Regions from separate parts of the Homo sapiens genome. Here all the other regions are reported to be linked to region 2. Evidence: microRNA targets listed by miRTarBase, many of them from high-throughput screens and not tested one by one. Region 2 holds a microRNA gene; each other region holds the end of a gene's coding sequence.

What was found. Region 2 holds the annotated microRNA hsa-miR-4466 (GGGUGCGGGCCGGCGGGG, at 1,118-1,135, opposite strand). A microRNA usually pairs through its seed, bases 2 to 8, with sites in the 3' UTR of a target mRNA and lowers its output. Matches are read on the target gene's strand: a 7mer-m8 pairs with bases 2 to 8, a 7mer-A1 pairs with bases 2 to 7 and ends in A, and an 8mer does both.
Region 1: the mRNA of NUMA1 is a reported target of hsa-miR-4466. Seed matches in the 3' UTR shown: 7mer-m8 at 518-524.
Region 3: the mRNA of ATP1B4 is a reported target of hsa-miR-4466. Seed matches in the 3' UTR shown: 7mer-m8 at 2,871-2,877.
Region 4: miRTarBase lists MAFF as a target of hsa-miR-4466. Seed matches in the 3' UTR shown: 7mer-A1 at 2,145-2,151.

What each region holds. Positions count from the first base shown.
Region 1 is chr11:71,999,906-72,003,905 of GRCh38, reverse strand. NUMA1 (nuclear mitotic apparatus protein 1) reads left to right here. Exons shown (of 27, transcript NM_006185.4): 26 at 1-19; 27 at 368-1,042. The coding sequence ends at 379. It overlaps IL18BP (interleukin 18 binding protein), which reads right to left. Exons shown (of 6, transcript NM_001039660.2): 2 at 3,894-3,979; 3 at 3,349-3,555; 4 at 2,582-2,705; 5 at 2,354-2,501; 6 at 1,102-2,122. The coding sequence starts at 3,921. The coding sequence ends at 2,045. Among named protein-coding and RNA genes, the nearest start is that of IL18BP, 3.0 kb to the right of the region's middle.
Region 2 is chr6:156,778,593-156,782,742 of GRCh38, forward strand. It overlaps MIR4466 (microRNA 4466), which reads right to left and starts at 1,139; the gene lies at 1,086-1,139. It overlaps ARID1B (AT-rich interaction domain 1B), which reads left to right. Exons shown (of 20, transcript NM_001374828.1): 1 at 1-879. RefSeq lists silencers at 1-39, 260-309, 380-1,069, 1,100-1,269 and an enhancer at 3-538.
Region 3 is chrX:120,378,869-120,382,868 of GRCh38, forward strand. It overlaps ATP1B4 (ATPase Na+/K+ transporting family member beta 4), which reads left to right. Exons shown (of 8, transcript NM_001142447.3): 8 at 605-4,000. The coding sequence ends at 766. Among named protein-coding and RNA genes, the nearest start is that of ATP1B4, 19 kb to the left of the region's middle.
Region 4 is chr22:38,214,480-38,218,479 of GRCh38, reverse strand. MAFF (MAF bZIP transcription factor F) reads right to left here. Exons shown (of 3, transcript NM_012323.4): 3 at 1,973-4,000. The coding sequence ends at 3,602. It also overlaps a transcript of TMEM184B not described here. Among named protein-coding and RNA genes, the nearest start is that of SNORA92, 8.2 kb to the left of the region's middle. RefSeq lists an enhancer at 1-274 and a silencer at 3,508-3,877.

The sequences.
Region 1 (4,000 bases), not on the chromosome of region 2:
CCCTCGAGCCAAGGGCAAGGTAGAGGCACTGGCAGGATGGGGGAGGGAAACCCGATGAGAGCATGGGCACCCCCCAGACCGCCCCACCAAGTAGCATCCAAGATGGGGCCACGCCAGGCTGCTGGAGGGTGTGGGGTAAGAGGTGTCCCTGTCCTGGTAGCTCCTCTCCAAGGAGAGAAGACAGATGGCCCCATTCTCATGGAGAGCACCCAGAGCTGCTCAGGCACAGCCAGCAACTGATAACCCTGGGGCTCACAAGGGAGGGGATCCAGACAGGGGCGTGGGAGCAGGAAGAGATCTTCCCAGCCAGTGGGTGCAGGCTAGTATCGCAAGTTCTCATCTGGCCATGTGACTGTGTCTCTTTCAGGCAAAGCACTAAAGGGCCAGTACCAGTGAGTGGCCCCACCTGTGTCCCCGATGCTGACCTCACCTGGTCCTCCGCCTACTGTCCCTCTCAGTGCCTTCTCTCAGCTCCCAGGCCAACAGTAGCCAAACCCCTAGAGACAGTGATGCCTGCCCGCACCCTGGCCTGGTCCCTGGTCCTTCACTGGCGCCTTCTCGGAGCTGGCCCAGGGGGCCTGGAGCATGGACAGTGTGGGCGCTCTCCCTACCTTGCCTCCTTTTTTCTTAAAGCAAAGTCACTTCTCCATCACAACCAGATTTGAGGCTGGTTTTGATGGCTGGGTCCTTGGGCCTGGCCAGTCTTCCTCTTAGCCTCTGGATCTAGAAGGGACCATAAGAGGAGTAGGCCCTGGTTCCTGCTGTCCTGGTGGCTGGGCCCAGCAGGGGCCCTCACTCTTGAAGTCCAGGACTGGGTCTGACCTGGTGGGAGCACCTGCCAGAGGATGCTCTTTCCCAGGACGGATGGGCCCTATGTCTCAGGAGTGGGGTTGGGGGACAGCCTTCAGCAGCAGCTCACACCCTACCTTCCCCAGACTTGCACTGGGGTGGGATTTGGAGTGATGGGAAGGTTTTTAAGGGCCGGGGATGGATCTTTTCTAAATGTTATTACTTGTAAATAAAGTCTATTTTTCTCCCGTGAGTACTGAGTTGACTTGATCGGTGTGGGAAAAAGAGGAATATAGGCTCTTTGAAGCCTACCTTGTTCCTGCTGAGTCTTCCATACCACCTCCTTTCTCTCATCCCTTTTCCTGAGGCCACATCTTTCCAGGCTCTTCCCACTCTCCATTAGTGGCCTCTGCTCCCGGGGAGCATTATGGGCTGTTCTCTCTTTTCTTTTTCAAGCGCCTGTGTTCCCCTGAAGCAGGTGTTGTCTTCAGCTTCTGTGTGGCAGTCCCTCTCTCCCATACTCCCTCGTGGGACAGGCAAAGTTCCTGGGAGTGGAACTGAAGCCTAAATGAACAGATGTCAGGATGCCTCCATTGAATAATCCTTTATGAGGACCCATGTGGGGATGACACAGATACAGTGTGGATCCGAAGCAGCTGCTGCCCCCATCCCTTCCCTGGAACAGTCCATTAGAGTGAAGGGGGAAAAAAAAAACATACAGCACGAAGATAGGAAGTCTGCAGAATGCGGCCAGAGCTGAAAGAGGATGACTTCACTGAAGAGGCAGCATTTCAACCAGGCTTGAGCGTTCCCCTGCTGGGGCGGTGAGGAAGACGGGACTAAATGAGCAGAGACATGGGAGTGGGAGCTGTCTGGGAAAAGCAAGAATAGTTGGGAGGCTTCCAGAAAGTCATGTGGGAAATGCAGGTAGGGCCCTGGAGTGCAAGGCTAAGGCATCAACAGTCTTGGTGGTTTCTGAGCAGTAGAGCAGTGTGAGGAGTAGGACGTTAGGAAGGCTAATGGATAGGTGGAGAGAGAATGGCAGGAGGAGGAGGCATTATAAGGAGGCTGTGATTTTCTAGGTAGGTGGGAATGGAGTTTGAATTTGGTGAGAGAAGGGACCCAAAGCAGAGAAGGAGGGGGTGTGTTGCGCATCCACGCAGCCTACAGGCAGTCAGGGACTGTTCACTCCAGGTAGACAGGTAGGACCCAAGCTCTGGTCAAGGTTGTGCTGCTGCTGGCCCTGTGCTGAGTCTTAACCCTGCTGCTGTGGACTGCTGTGGCTGGAGGGCAGGGCTTCTTGGGTGGGGGGCAAGGTTGCCCTCAGCCCAGCCTAGGGAAGTGAAGGCAGACAAGGATCAGGCCAAGGAAAGGAGGGACATCTCATCACTTTGCCCCAGGCTACACCTCCTCTGCCCAAGACCTAAGTTCCTTTTTGTCTGGCTGACCTTGAGGAATGCTGGGCATTAGTTCACAGGCTGCTCTGGCAGAGCCCACCCTTTCCTCCCCACATATGGAAGCAGAGCTCCTCCTGTTCCTGGAGGCCTCTCCTTGGGCTCCTCACCCAGAGCTGGGCCAGGACGACGTGACGCTGGACAACCTGTTCAGGGTCCACGAGCACACAGGAGAAGTTGGTGCTGTGCAGGGCAGGGGTCAGCTGCTCCAGCACCAAGGCCTTGCACAGCTGCGTACCTGTGCTCCCACGTTCCCGGCTGGAGCGGAAGGGAAGGAAAGGTCATGAGAAGGCCGCAGAAGGCCTCCTTCCCACCCACCTGGCTGCTGCGACCCTCACCTGGTGCTCCCCTCCCACAGTCGGCCTGGGAGGTGCTCAATGAAGGAACCATTGCCCAGCCAGTAGAGGATGCTGAAGTTGGGGAAGCGGCTGCAGGCCACACAGGATAAGCTCAGCGTTCCATCTAGGGACACAGGCAGCAGTTAGCTCTTCAGAAGAGCAGGCCCTTCCCCTACCCTGCTCTGCTGTGCCCTCCCTGCCAGCTCCCCCCAGTCCCCATGCATCTGGAACCTAGAGAACTGCTCTGCACACCACCTAGGTGGGAACGTCCGTTACAGAAGTGCAGTTGTCTCCGAGAGGCCCTAGCCCTAAACACGGGGAATGTGAGGAATGGTCCTTGGTTCACGTGATGAATCCTCTTCTGAACCTGTCTCCTCAGGATGACCTTTTCTAGTGCCCAGCCTCGGTGACTTGGGAGCCCAGGTGACAAAGGCAGTGCTGGATGGCTGCTGCTCCTCTGAGATGGCCAGAGGCCAGCAGGCTCTGGGTGGAGGGGCTGGCCTTGGGGTCCACTGCAACCAAGGCTCTGGGAGGTCCTGTGACCATTACTTATGTCTTGAGTTCTCTGTCCTATTTGATAGGGAGCATCTTGGGAGCTGCGCCAAGCCTGCACCCATGACACTGGGTTGGGGAGGGAGAATGGTGCGTGCTCAGCCCAGCTGGCTCAGCTGGTGGTACATGGGCAGAAGGGGACTGGCGCTCAGGAGTCAACCCGACCCTGGGAACCTCTGTGCCCATAGCCCACCCTCCACCACTGTGCTTCTTACTCAGTGGCACTTCCACCTCTGGCCAGGTCACTTCCAATGCTGGACACTGCTTAGCTGCTGGGAACACTGGGGGCTGGGAGGGGCAGGGGTCCTTTGTGCTTCTAACTGAGGCAGTGGCAGCTGTGGTGGTCTGCGAGACAGGTGTGGCTCTGACCAGGAGAGTGACGACGTGGGCACACAGGAGCAGGACCCACAAAGGGCTGAGGTCTGAGGAAAGGACAGTTACAGGTCAGCGGCTCTGGAGACAGAGTGGGCTGCCCGGGTAAGGATGTAACTCCAGCCCAGAGATGTCTGGGTTCTAGCCAGGGAATCAGAGCGGGAAGAGGGACCCCTCAGCACCCACCCCTTAGCCCTTTATTGAACAGAGTACAGAGAAGCTTTAGACTGGAGCCAGAGCTACAATATCTGCCCAGGTTCTTAAAGCAACAGCACCAGGTGCGCTGGGTGGTTTGCCTTGGAGTGAAGGCTCCGGGTTAGCCCATTGCTCCATTCTGTTCATAGACCTCACCCTACCCCGCCTGCCCATGCGTAGCCCCAAGGCCTACCTGGTGTCCAGTTGTGTCTCATGGTCATGATGCATGCGTCAGGAGCTGGTGAGCCTGGCTCTTTATCTGTGACAACGTCCTCTTCTCTGGTGAAAGGTGGGGGAGGA
Region 2 (4,150 bases):
GGCGGCCCGGCGGCCGTCCCGGAGTTTAATAATTACTATGGCAGCGCTGCCCCTGCGAGCGGCGGCCCCGGCGGCCGCGCTGGGCCTTGCTTTGATCAACATGGCGGACAACAAAGCCCCGGGATGGGGATGATGCACTCCGCCTCCGCCGCCGCCGCCGGGGCCCCCGGCAGCATGGACCCCCTGCAGAACTCCCACGAAGGGTACCCCAACAGCCAGTGCAACCATTATCCGGGCTACAGCCGGCCCGGCGCGGGCGGCGGCGGCGGCGGCGGCGGCGGAGGAGGAGGAGGCAGCGGAGGAGGAGGAGGAGGAGGAGGAGCAGGAGCAGGAGGAGCAGGAGCGGGAGCTGTGGCGGCGGCGGCCGCGGCGGCGGCGGCAGCAGCAGGAGGCGGCGGCGGCGGCGGCTATGGGGGCTCGTCCGCGGGGTACGGGGTGCTGAGCTCCCCCCGGCAGCAGGGCGGCGGCATGATGATGGGCCCCGGGGGCGGCGGGGCCGCGAGCCTCAGCAAGGCGGCCGCCGGCTCGGCGGCGGGGGGCTTCCAGCGCTTCGCCGGCCAGAACCAGCACCCGTCGGGGGCCACCCCGACCCTCAATCAGCTGCTCACCTCGCCCAGCCCCATGATGCGGAGCTACGGCGGCAGCTACCCCGAGTACAGCAGCCCCAGCGCGCCGCCGCCGCCGCCGTCGCAGCCCCAGTCCCAGGCGGCGGCGGCGGGGGCGGCGGCGGGCGGCCAGCAGGCGGCCGCGGGCATGGGCTTGGGCAAGGACATGGGCGCCCAGTACGCCGCTGCCAGCCCGGCCTGGGCGGCCGCGCAACAAAGGAGTCACCCGGCGATGAGCCCCGGCACCCCCGGACCGACCATGGGCAGATCCCAGGTAACCCTCGCGCCAGCCGGGCCTGCTTCCGCCCGGCGGCCTCGCCGCGCCGCGAGCCTGAGTTTCTTTCTTTGCCGCGTACTTTTCCCCGTCTTCCCGCGGGGGCGGCGGGGGCGCGGCGCCCAAAGCCATCTTGACGGGCGGCCGCCTCCCGCCGCGGTCGGGGCGCCCCGGGGGCCGGCGCGCTGTCCAGGCCTGGGAGGGCTTCGCCGGGCCGGGCCGGGCCGGGTGGCTTCTACCCCGCCGGCCCGCACCCGCGTCCCCCCCCTCCCCCAGGCCCGGGAACGCGAAGCGAGATCCCGAGGCGCCACCCGCGCGGTCGCCGTTTGGGGCGGCGGGGACCGTTCGGGTGCTTTTGTAACAAATAGGCTCTCCCGGCCAGGACGGCTGGGGCGAAGAGCCACCCGATCGGTTCTGGGAGCGCCCACAATGTGCTTTAACGGGGGAAAGAATGAGGAACTTTCTCACACCTTTAGCCACAGCACGTTCCCTCTTGGCTTCCGAGGTCCAGGCAGGGAAAATAGGTTAGCTTTGTGACAAGCGAGTGGGTTTTTCCTACTTAGGGAGAGCCATTCAGAGACACTCGGTGCGGGCTTCGAGCTCGAACGTTTGCTGGTAGGAATAATAACAAAATTTACAACGACATGGAGGTGCAATATTGTAAAATACATCGATTCGTTCCTTAGAATAGCCAGGGAAATCCATTATTGGGCTTACGGGCTGCTTGCAGGGAGTCACCTTCAACAGGCAGGCTATGTGAAAGGAGCACGTTCCGGATCAATTGAACTTATTTTGATCATGGATTAGGCATGCATTTTATTCAGCAAATCCAGTAAGATAGCAGACCAGTGAAAATTGATCTTTTGGGATCGTATTTATTTGGATTTTCTTTATTTTGCTGTCACCCGAGTCCTACAGCGCTGTTAGGAAGTGTCCTGCACTCTTGCTGTTTCTTGCTAGTAGGCTGAGCCTAAAGACTGACTTGATCTCCTTTGCAAGGTTTGGAATTTGAATTGTGGAGGTAAACTGGCTGTAATAGTCTCCAGACAGCTGCCTCTGAGTTGACATCTAATCTGCCATCTGATTGGCTCCCCTCTCACCATTGGGCATTTAGCACTGCTGATGTAAATAGAAGTGCTGAGCAGTACAGTCACAAAAATTCTTGCCACAAATAATAACTGAGCTCTATTACAAGCAAATGTAAGGTTCAGTATTTAAAGCTGAAACTATTATGAATCATAGTTATTAATAAGAGGATCAAATACAGAAAAACAGTTCGCTGGTGTCCAGTATTGGGCATTTACAAAATTCAGATCTTTGATGATAGTCTTAGAATATGCACATTACATATATCATAGACTTTAATTGGAGGCTGAGGATAAGGCCATTGAAAAATAAGTAAACCACGAATTTTACCAATTTTTGGATTTGTAAAGCCTTTATAAAAGTCTTCCCTTTACAAATTCAACTATGGAAAAATTTGAATTCTGTCAGCACACGCAGCTTAATAAAACCTTAAAATTTTTTTAAGATTTTGATAGGCAGCAATATATTTTGGTGATGTGTAATTCACCTGATAAACAAGATTTAAGCTTCATTTTTTTGTGATTTATCAGTTCTGACTGTTCAAAGATATTTGTGGATGAGGAGTTTTGGTTAGAATTGACATATTTAAAAAACGAAATGAGGAAACCACATATTTGTGCAGATAACAATAATTAAAAGGGGAAAAATGAGATATTCCTGTGAAATACTAAGAATCATTTCATATTTGCTTTTGATGTGGAGAATACAGAAATGCCCCATAATCTTTTTTTTTTCTTCATTGTTTTGTTAGATTAGGTAATTTGAGCCTTGTTTGAACTGCTTACACGATGAATTAGGGAAACTATATTCTAAGCAAGTTGTGCTGGGTGTCTTTTTTTCCAAATAATTTTTCTTTCATGTTAATGCTATGAAAGTTTAAAAAATCCTAATCTGTTAGAGAGGAACAACAGTCGTTGTATGTATATTTTTATGTAACTCATTTATTTTAGGAAGAGGTATTTTAACAATAATCATACCTTAGAGACTTGTCAGAGTGAAGGAAGGGCTGAATTTAACAAATAATCTTGTGAATCCTAGGCTGAACACTGCTGTCCACTGCTTTCAGATCTTTAGTTATTGGAGTTTTGCTTTTAAGGATAATAGATTTTTCTATTCTTAATAGAAAACTTGTGATTTCAACTTGTTTTTGATTCACACGAGGAAAAACATTATAGAGAAGAATCATGGAAATAAACCCACGTAATTAATTTTAAAAAGGTTTGCTTTGTCAGCCTGCTTTTAAAGGAGCAGTTTAAAATTCACATCTTCGTAAACTAGAGACGAATGAAGTTAGAGGCAGATGTAGGACCATGTTACTTTAGAGTATTTTTTTCTTAATGGTACCAATCATTTTCAGTATTTTGTTTTCTTGTAATGAGAATGAATCCATTATGTCCCTATGACCCTTGGGAATAGGCTTTTTTTTTTTTTTTTTTTTTTTTTTTTTGTTGAGGTTGGGGGAAATATGGACATGCGACCTAGATTCAGGAATTTCTTTTAAGTACCTTACCGTGTAACATGTGGAATGTGTCTTTTTTACAATCCTTTTTTTTCTTTTCTTTTTGGAAGTTAGTATTATTTAGTATTAGTTGTTGTAATTATACTAAGAAACAGTCATTTGTCCAAAATATTAAATTACTGCCTGACTGTAGGTCATGAAATGCTATTAAATCACATTGTTAAATGATGAAATATTTTGGCTTTTAATATGTTTTTAGTTTCATTTTTGATTTCAGGAAATAGTTTCTATTGGGTGGCAAATGTTTTCGTAATTGGGACAAAACGTGTATATATTATAGGAGAAGGGTCTTTTTAAAAAGTGAAATAAGCCATTTGACGATTCAGTTTATTACTAGATTTTTGTAAGATGAGTATTCAGATGGAGCAGTCTCAAAAGGAATATTGAGGTCTACTCACGCACATAGGTTTTATGATGTCCACATTTCTACTGAATTCCATAAATGCAGTTTTAACTTTTAGTTTTATAAAACGTAGTACAATGTATTAAGAAAAGGGCCTTATTTACCATTAGAAGAAAAGTGATTAGCTAGCATGCGAAGCAGGAAGCTACAAACTGGTTCCTGATTACCTTAAAATGTGTGTGAGATACATTATTTGATAAAATCACTCCCAGTTAAATTTTAGGGTGTCTGATATTTTAAATCTTGTAAACAAATTTTTGTGG
Region 3 (4,000 bases), not on the chromosome of region 2:
GTAGAGGGGTAAATAGCTGCTGGCCATAACCAGGAGCTCCCTTTACCAATTCTTATCACAACCACACTCCTTTCCATATCTGAAAGAATCTCATATATGGCCTAATTTAACCTTTTAAGTTTACGAATGGGAAAATTGGGGTTCAGAGACAGAAAGTGACTTGCCCAAGACCATACAGCTAAGTTAGTGGCAGGGTCAGGAGCAGATAAATTACTACCAATGTGCTTAAACATGCCCTAATAATCACGCTTCTGTTTCTCCCATTTGAAGCGCTGGGGTGAGTCCCCAACACAGGGACTCGATAGACACTAGTTTTGGTTTAATTCATGGTCTGATTTCCAGAAAAATCATATCATGCTGAATCAGAATTGGTTTTTCCCAGAGGACAATCAGATATCTGACAGTGACTTGTTAGAGAAATGTATGATTTTCCCACACTTTCCCACTGCAAGGAGAGTATGTCTGTTGCTTTGGCCATTTGCAAATTGGCATCATGGGATTTACTCAGTTCTCTTTGTGAGGGTTGTCATCCTGCAGTGATTATCTGATCACTTCCCTCCTACCACCTCCCCACACTTAGAATTCATTTTTCTTCTACCTGCAGGTTAACTACACATCCCCCTTGGTGGCAATGCACTTTACAGACGTGGTGAAGAACCAAGCAGTGCCTGTGCAGTGCCAACTGAAGGGCAAAGGCGTCATAAATGATGTCATCAATGATCGTTTTGTGGGCAGGGTAATCTTTACCCTGAACATAGAAACTTAAGAACTTCAGGGGGCCATTCTTACCAGTTCTGTTTCTGTTTTATCTCATGGTATCTCTGGTAGCACCTGAATTCTTTTTCTTCAATTAGGACACAGCCAGATGGACATCTAAGACAGCCGATCATCTTTCCTTGCCTATGACATGTGTATAAAATGACATTGTGGGAGCTGTTCGATTTTTTAAAGGTAGTGTCTCCTGATGACAAACAGAGTATATTAATTTCCTTTCCCTCCACTTAAAACTAAAGCCTGTTCTTGCTGCTGGTAATCTCCCTGTAGCGTAAACATAGTATCTGATAAAATTTACAATAGCCACGCAATAGCCATCAAGGAGAATTTCTATTATGATTATAAATTCATCATGTTTTCTAAAATTCTGTTGGTTTTAGAGGTCAGATTCCTCCCAACCAGGCTAATAACCTAACACATGTTTAAAAAAAATCTGCCTAAGCCGGGTGTGGTGGCATGCATCTGTAGTCCCACCTATTCAGGAGATTAAGGCAGGAGGATCACTTGAGCCCAGGAGGTCAAGGCTGCAGTGAGCTGCACTGCATTCCAGCCTGGGTGACAGAGTGAGATCCTGTCTCTGAAGAAAAAAAAAACCTGCCTGGCAAGGTCCTTCCCTGGGAATCACCACTCGGTCCAACCTAGACAACCAAGACCGCTATACCTAAAGACCTCTATATCCTGGTGCCTAAGAAACTTCTGCCTCCCACAGACAACTAAGTGCTTATTCAAAGACTAGGTTATTTTCAACTGGGAAAAAAGCAGTGCTAACAGGATATTGTTCTGGGATAGAGATGAAGACCGTCCTTGTGACTTTTTAAAGAGGTGGGGCTCACTGCAACTGGGGAGAACACTTAGCATATGGATATGATTGGTGTTTGATTCCTTGCTCTCTGGTGTAATCGTCTAAAGGCAAACATTCCTGCAAACAGGTTTTTCTCAGCTTCAGGCAGAGGAGACAACATGGAAGAAGATTCCCACCAGCTAATTCTTCTTGGGCTATTTGTTTGACAGTAGCATGATGTTTTTTGAGACCATCAGGGGTGGTTACATAGACCAGCAGCTACAGCTCTGGAAATTGAAATCATAATCTGTCAATGAATACATGACAAGACAGAACGTTCCTTGCCAGGCCAGGCAAAAGCCAAGGCCCATTAGCCAGTTTAGCATTTACTTTAAAAATGACATGAGGCAGATTCTTATCCAGGATGTGGATCAGCCAGGTCACTTTGTCTTATCTTTGGTCACCTGATCACTCAACTGCTTCTTAACACCTCCACCAGGGGGAAGGCTGGCACAAGGAGAAAAAAAAAGCAAGCATCAGCGAATAGTATAGTGTCTCAGGGTCCGAAGCAAGTTTAAATGCCACCTAGGAGGATCCAAAGTCTGAATCTCCTCTACAATGTTTCCTTTCTCCCAAAACAGGGAACTGACTGTCTGGTAGTGAAGACAAGCAAGTGGAGAAGTTATACGATATAGTTTAATGAGAGTTAAAAAACTAGTATGTGGAAAGCTATGGGAATATGAGGAAAAATATCTTGAGCTAAGAAAGTAGCAGAGGAAATTTCACATGCAAAGCCACAGTCATGAAGAGACCATGGTGTGTCTGGGTAACTGTGAGCAGTTTATGTAACTGGAATGAAAAGGGCTCAGAGGAATGGCAGGGATGGCAAGAGATCCAGCTAGAGAGGTATTCAGGGATGGAAAGAGGACTTTGAGTTTTATCCAATAGGTGAAAATGAGTAATTAAAGCATTTTAATCAGGGAGGCTCTGTGATCACATTTGTGTTTTATTTTATTTTACTTTATTATTTATTTGTTTATTTTTGAGATGGAGTTTCGCTGTTGTCACCCAGGCTGGAGTGCAGTGGTGTGATCTCGGCTCACTGCAACCTCCACCTCCCGGATTCAAGTGATTCTCCAGCCTCAGCCTCCTGAGTAGCTGGGATTACAGGCACACACCACCATGCCCAGCTAACTTTTGTATTTTTGGCGGAGACAGGGTTTCACCATGTTGGCCAGGCTGGTCTCGAACTCCTGACCTCAAGTGATCCGCCTGCCTCAGCCTCCCACAGTGCTGGGATTACAGGCGTGAGCCACCGCACCCGGCTTGCAATTTAGAAAGGGCACTTGGCAACCACTATGTGAAGGGTGATTGGAGAAGGACAAGACTGTGGAATGGGGAATAAGGAAGGAGGAGTTTGGAGAATGACTCCAAAGGTTTGAGCTTGGCTAGAACCGGTAAGATGGTGACATTGTTGATCAAGACTGGGAATATAAGAGAGAAGCAGGTTTGGAGAGATCAATTTTGAACATTTTAGACATGATTTTCTATTGGTCAGACATTGATGTGGAGATGTAAACACATGTAGGGTTGGTGAGAAGGAAAGATGAGAACAAAAGCAACATTGGGTTAAGGGAACTCGCTTAAGAAATTTTAAGCTATTTAATCTTGGGAACTGAAGCCAGTCATGTAAACATACTATACCAATCTAGTCCCTAACAGTGTTTTTTCTCTTGTGGCAGAAAGAATTGCTGTTCCTCTTTGGAATCTCCTTCCCAGACACCTTCAAAGTCTTATTGACACAGTAAAGGGAGGCCAACCACTACTAACAAGTTCTAGAAGATATAGGATCTTCTATAGTAGGTTAATGGAAAATACAAAAACAAACAAACATACAATGAAACTGCCTCCTCTCAACCCATTTTCTTAACAAATTCAATTTTCAAAACTAACCTTTAAAAAGAAAAGGAACAAAATGAAAAAGACAATAACTTTTAAACCACTTGAAAATTACCTCAATCAAACTCTCAAGATTCAGTAGTAAAAGATAATAGAATGTTAGATCTGGAAAGGATATTAGAGAGTGTTTAGAAAAAACAACTTGCATTGCATCTGACTCCAGGTCCAGTGCTCTTTCTACTCTGAGCTGCTGCTTACCAGAAAGTACCATCTTCTTAAAAATCAATGAATGATATCCCAAACATTTTGAAACGTATGTAAATTTTGAGTTAAAATAGTTAACATTTCACAGGAATTCAACTACTGGTGCTATACTTTATACATAATACATTATCCTGTTAAATGCATTGACTATTAGACAAGGAATTATGAATCATTTGTCAAATAATATTTATCTTTCAATGGAATCCATTGTGTCCACAATTGCAAAGCAATATTGAAGGGTACTAAGATAGTTTGGGTTGTCAGCTAGGACATGAAAAATGT
Region 4 (4,000 bases), not on the chromosome of region 2:
GTAAATGTGTGTTCGGAGTGTTAAAACCTGCAGCCCCACAGGTCTCCAGGGTTTTTCGCACGTAATGCCCCATAGCATCTTCATTTTACAGATGGTAAACTGAGACTGTAAGAAACCAAATAAGTACCAAAGATCCCACAGCTAAGAACAGACACCTAGATTCAAACCCCAATTGCCGTGACCCACAGACCACAGTATACTCCACTCCTTCTTCAGGGTGCCCCAGAAGGGCTGGCAGATTGGGTTGAAATTAGTGAGTTTGAGGCCTAGGACAAGACACAGGGTTATGGTTTAGGCCTGCAGGTGGGGGCTGGGAAAGCCACTCTCCCTGCCTCCCTGGGCATTCCGAAACATGGGGAAGATAGTTTCCACTTGGCTGTAGAAAATCAGATCTCAATGTGAAAGTGCTGGAAAAATTACTCTGAAATCTGGGTTTTTTCCTCTCTGGGTGGGACTGTCTGTTCACTAAAGGGATGCCCAGGGAATTTAACCCTAAATTTCTTCTTCTTTTGAGACAGGGTCTGTGTCACCTAGATTGTGCAGTGGTGCAATCATAGCTCACTGCAGCCTCAAACTCCTGGGCTCAACCACACCACCATGACTGGCTAATTGTTTTCTTTTCTTTTCTTTTCTTTTTTTTTTTTTTTTTGAGATGGAGTCTTGCTCTGTCACCCAGGCTGGAGTGCAGTGGCGCGATCTCAGCTTACTGCAACCTCTGCTTCCCGGGTTTAAGCGATTCTCTCTTGTCTCAACCTCCTGAGTAGCCAGGACTACAGACATGCGCCACCACACTCAGCTATGTTTTTCTGTTTTTTGTTTTGTTTTTCTTTTTTTTTTTGAGACGGAGTCTCACTCTGTCGCCCAGGCTGGAGTCCAGTGGCGCGATCTCAGCTCACTGCAAGCTCCGCCTCCCGGCTTCACACCATTCTCCTGCCTCAGCCTCCCGAGTAGCTGGGACTACAGGCGCCCGCCACCATGCCCGGCTAATTTTTTTTGTATTTTTAGTAGAGACGGGGTTTCACCGTGTTAGCCAGGATGGTCTCGATCTCCTGACCTCGTGATCTGCCTGCCTCAGCCTCCCAAAGTGCTGGGATTACAGGCATGAGCCACCGCACCCGGGCCATGTTTTTTTTTTGTTGTTGTTGTTTTTTGTATTTTTAGTAGAGACGGGGTTTCACCGTGTTAGCCAGGATGGTCTCGATCTCCTGACCTCGTGATCCGCCTGCCTCAGCCTCCCAAAGTGCTGGGATTACAGGCGTGAGCCACCGCACCCGGGCCATGTTTTTTTTTTGTTGTTGTTGTTTTTTGTATTTTTAGTAGAGACGGGGTTTCACCATGTTGGTCAGGCTGGTCTTGAACTCCTGACCTCAAATGATCCACCCGCCTCAGCCTCCCAAAGTGCTGGGATTACAGGTGTGAGCCACTGCGCCCGGCCTGTTTTCTTACTTTTAAATTTCTTGTAGAGATGGGGGTCTTGCTATGTTGCCCAGCCTGGTCTCAAACTCCTGGCCTCAAGTGATCCTCCCACCTCAGCCTCTTCAGTAGCTGGAACAATAGGCATGTGTACCACCACATGTGGCTAATTATTTTTTATTTTTTGTAGAGATGGGGTGTCACTATGTTGCCCGGGTTGCTCTTGGACTCCTAGTCTCAGATGATCCTCTTGCTTCAGCCTCCCAAAGTGCTGGGATTACAGGTGTGAGCCACCATGCTCCGCCAGAATCCAGTCCTAAATTTCATTGTGCCCATGGCTTTGTCTTCCCAGGAGCTCCTGTGCTCTAAGCAACCAAGAGGAAGCATCGAAGTTTCAGCATCACTGGTCTCTGTCGCCATCTCCCCTCCACCTCATACCCTGTGCAATAGCTGGTGATGTGCACTAGCCCTCCCCGCCACCAGAAGCCCTAAGGGGTTGAAAGCAGAACCCCATTTTAGACACCCCTCGCCAAAAAACATAGTCCAGGATACACATTTATTCTCTGTGGAAAAAGAAAGAATTTGACTTTATTTAGAAAGTCTACAAAATACAGAAGACGATAACTCGCTTGCTGTAAGTCAGGAAATAAATAAATTCTAGGAGCCGGGCAATATTTTTTAACTTTTTTTTTGAGACAGGATTTTGCTATGTTGCCCAGGCTGGAGTGCAGTGGTGCGATCTCAGCTCACTACAACCTCTGCCTTCTGGGCTTAAGTGATCCTCCTGCCTCAGCCTCCCAAGTAGCTGGGACTACAGGCATGAGCCACCATGCATGGCTAATTTTTGTATTTTTTGTAGAGATGGGGTTTCACCATGTTGTCCAGGCTGGTCTCAAACTCCTGGACTCAAGCGATCCCCCTCCTTGGACTCCCAAAGTGCTGGGATTACAGATGTGAGCCACCGCGCCCGGCTTAAACATTTTTTGTTGTTGCTCTCCGGCTTTCCCTAAATATAAGATAAAATGTGATTTATTTGCAGATATAAAATATAAAGCCCAGCTCAGGGCCATACGCCACTTTTCCCAGGGAGCAGGAGCTCGGGCTCTGGCTGGGGAGAATAACTTAGATCCGTGCAATAAATAAACAGTGGGGAGGGGCAGTGTGGACAGTGTTGGGGGAGGGACTGAGACTGGGCTTCCCAGGAGAATGACAATCAAAGGCAGGGGTCAGCCCCCACCCCACAGTGGACACTGACAGGGGTTGAGGTGGGACCCTTCTTCTTAGGACCCCACTCCAGACTGTAGTAGGACTGCAGGGTCTGTCTCCTTGTCTCCCTATTTGCCACAGCAGTCCATGGCCCCCTTTCTCTGACTGGCCAGCCCCCGGACACCCTGGCTGCAGGGACAGCCTAGGGCTGAGCCAGGCCAGCTCCTTCCCACTCTTCCATCCGTGTCACCTTCTCTCTCCCTCTGCTTCTCTCCCCCTCCCTTGCAGAGAGCGGTCTCCCAAGCCAGGGAGGCCCTCCCACCACATTTCTGAGTCCCTGTCCACTGTCCCCCTGAAAACCATGGCTGGACTCAGGGCAGCAGTGAGGACACCCAGGTTTTGGTCCCAACACAACCACTAAGTGAAATGTGACCTCAGGCCTGTTTCCCCATCCGTGAACTGGGTTTCACTAGTCTTCCCACCCACTCTTTTAGTTTCGGAAGGCCAGGCACCCCCAGGCCCAACCAGAGGTGGGGGCATCTCTTCAGTGCAATTTCTCAGCAGGACGGTCCCGTAAGTCACAGACAGCCAAACCTAGCTTTGAATCCTGGGAGGGTTTGGAGGGCATATTGGCACAATAAGAGCAGTTTCCAAGATGAGGGGTGCCCTCTTCTCCCCCAACAGCTGTTCTCTAAGCCGGCTCTGTATCTCTCAATCTAAAAAGGCTAAACTTTCAGCCAAGGGCGATCCCAGATCCAGACCTCTGCCCCATCCCCAACCTACCCAAGTTCCCCTTCCCAGGGTCATTCGGTCCCAGTTTGGGGGGCTGCAAGAGGAAGACAGGGCCCACGAAGGGAATGTGTGTGCACCAAGGGGCCAGTGCTGCAGAGAAATGGGACCTGGGCACAGAGGCGGCGCTCAGGCACTTTGGGGAGGGAGCTGAGGCCGGAGGGGCGTGGCTGAGGCATGGCGGGGGCGGGCACTAGGAGCAGGAGGCCGGGCCGTGGGCGGGGTCCGGGCCGTGGGCGGGGCCAGACCCCGAGCCCGGGGTGGACTTGACGATGGTGATGACGCTGGCCGGCGCCACGAGCGTGGCGGGCCCGCGGGCGGCGGCCACGGAGCGCGCGAAGCCCTGCAGCGCCTCGCACTTGCCGCGCAGCGCGTCGAGCTCCAGGCGCATGGCGGCGTTCTCGCGCGCCAGCTTGTCCACCTCGCGCTCCAGCTCCGACTTCTGCTTCTGCAGCTCCTCCTTCTGGCACACGCGCTTCACGCGGCAGCTGGCGGCGTAGCCACGGTTTTTGAGTGTGCGGCGCCGCTGCTTGAGCCGTGTCACCTCCTCGGCGGAGAGCCCGCGCAGATGCCGGTTCAGCTCGCGCACCGA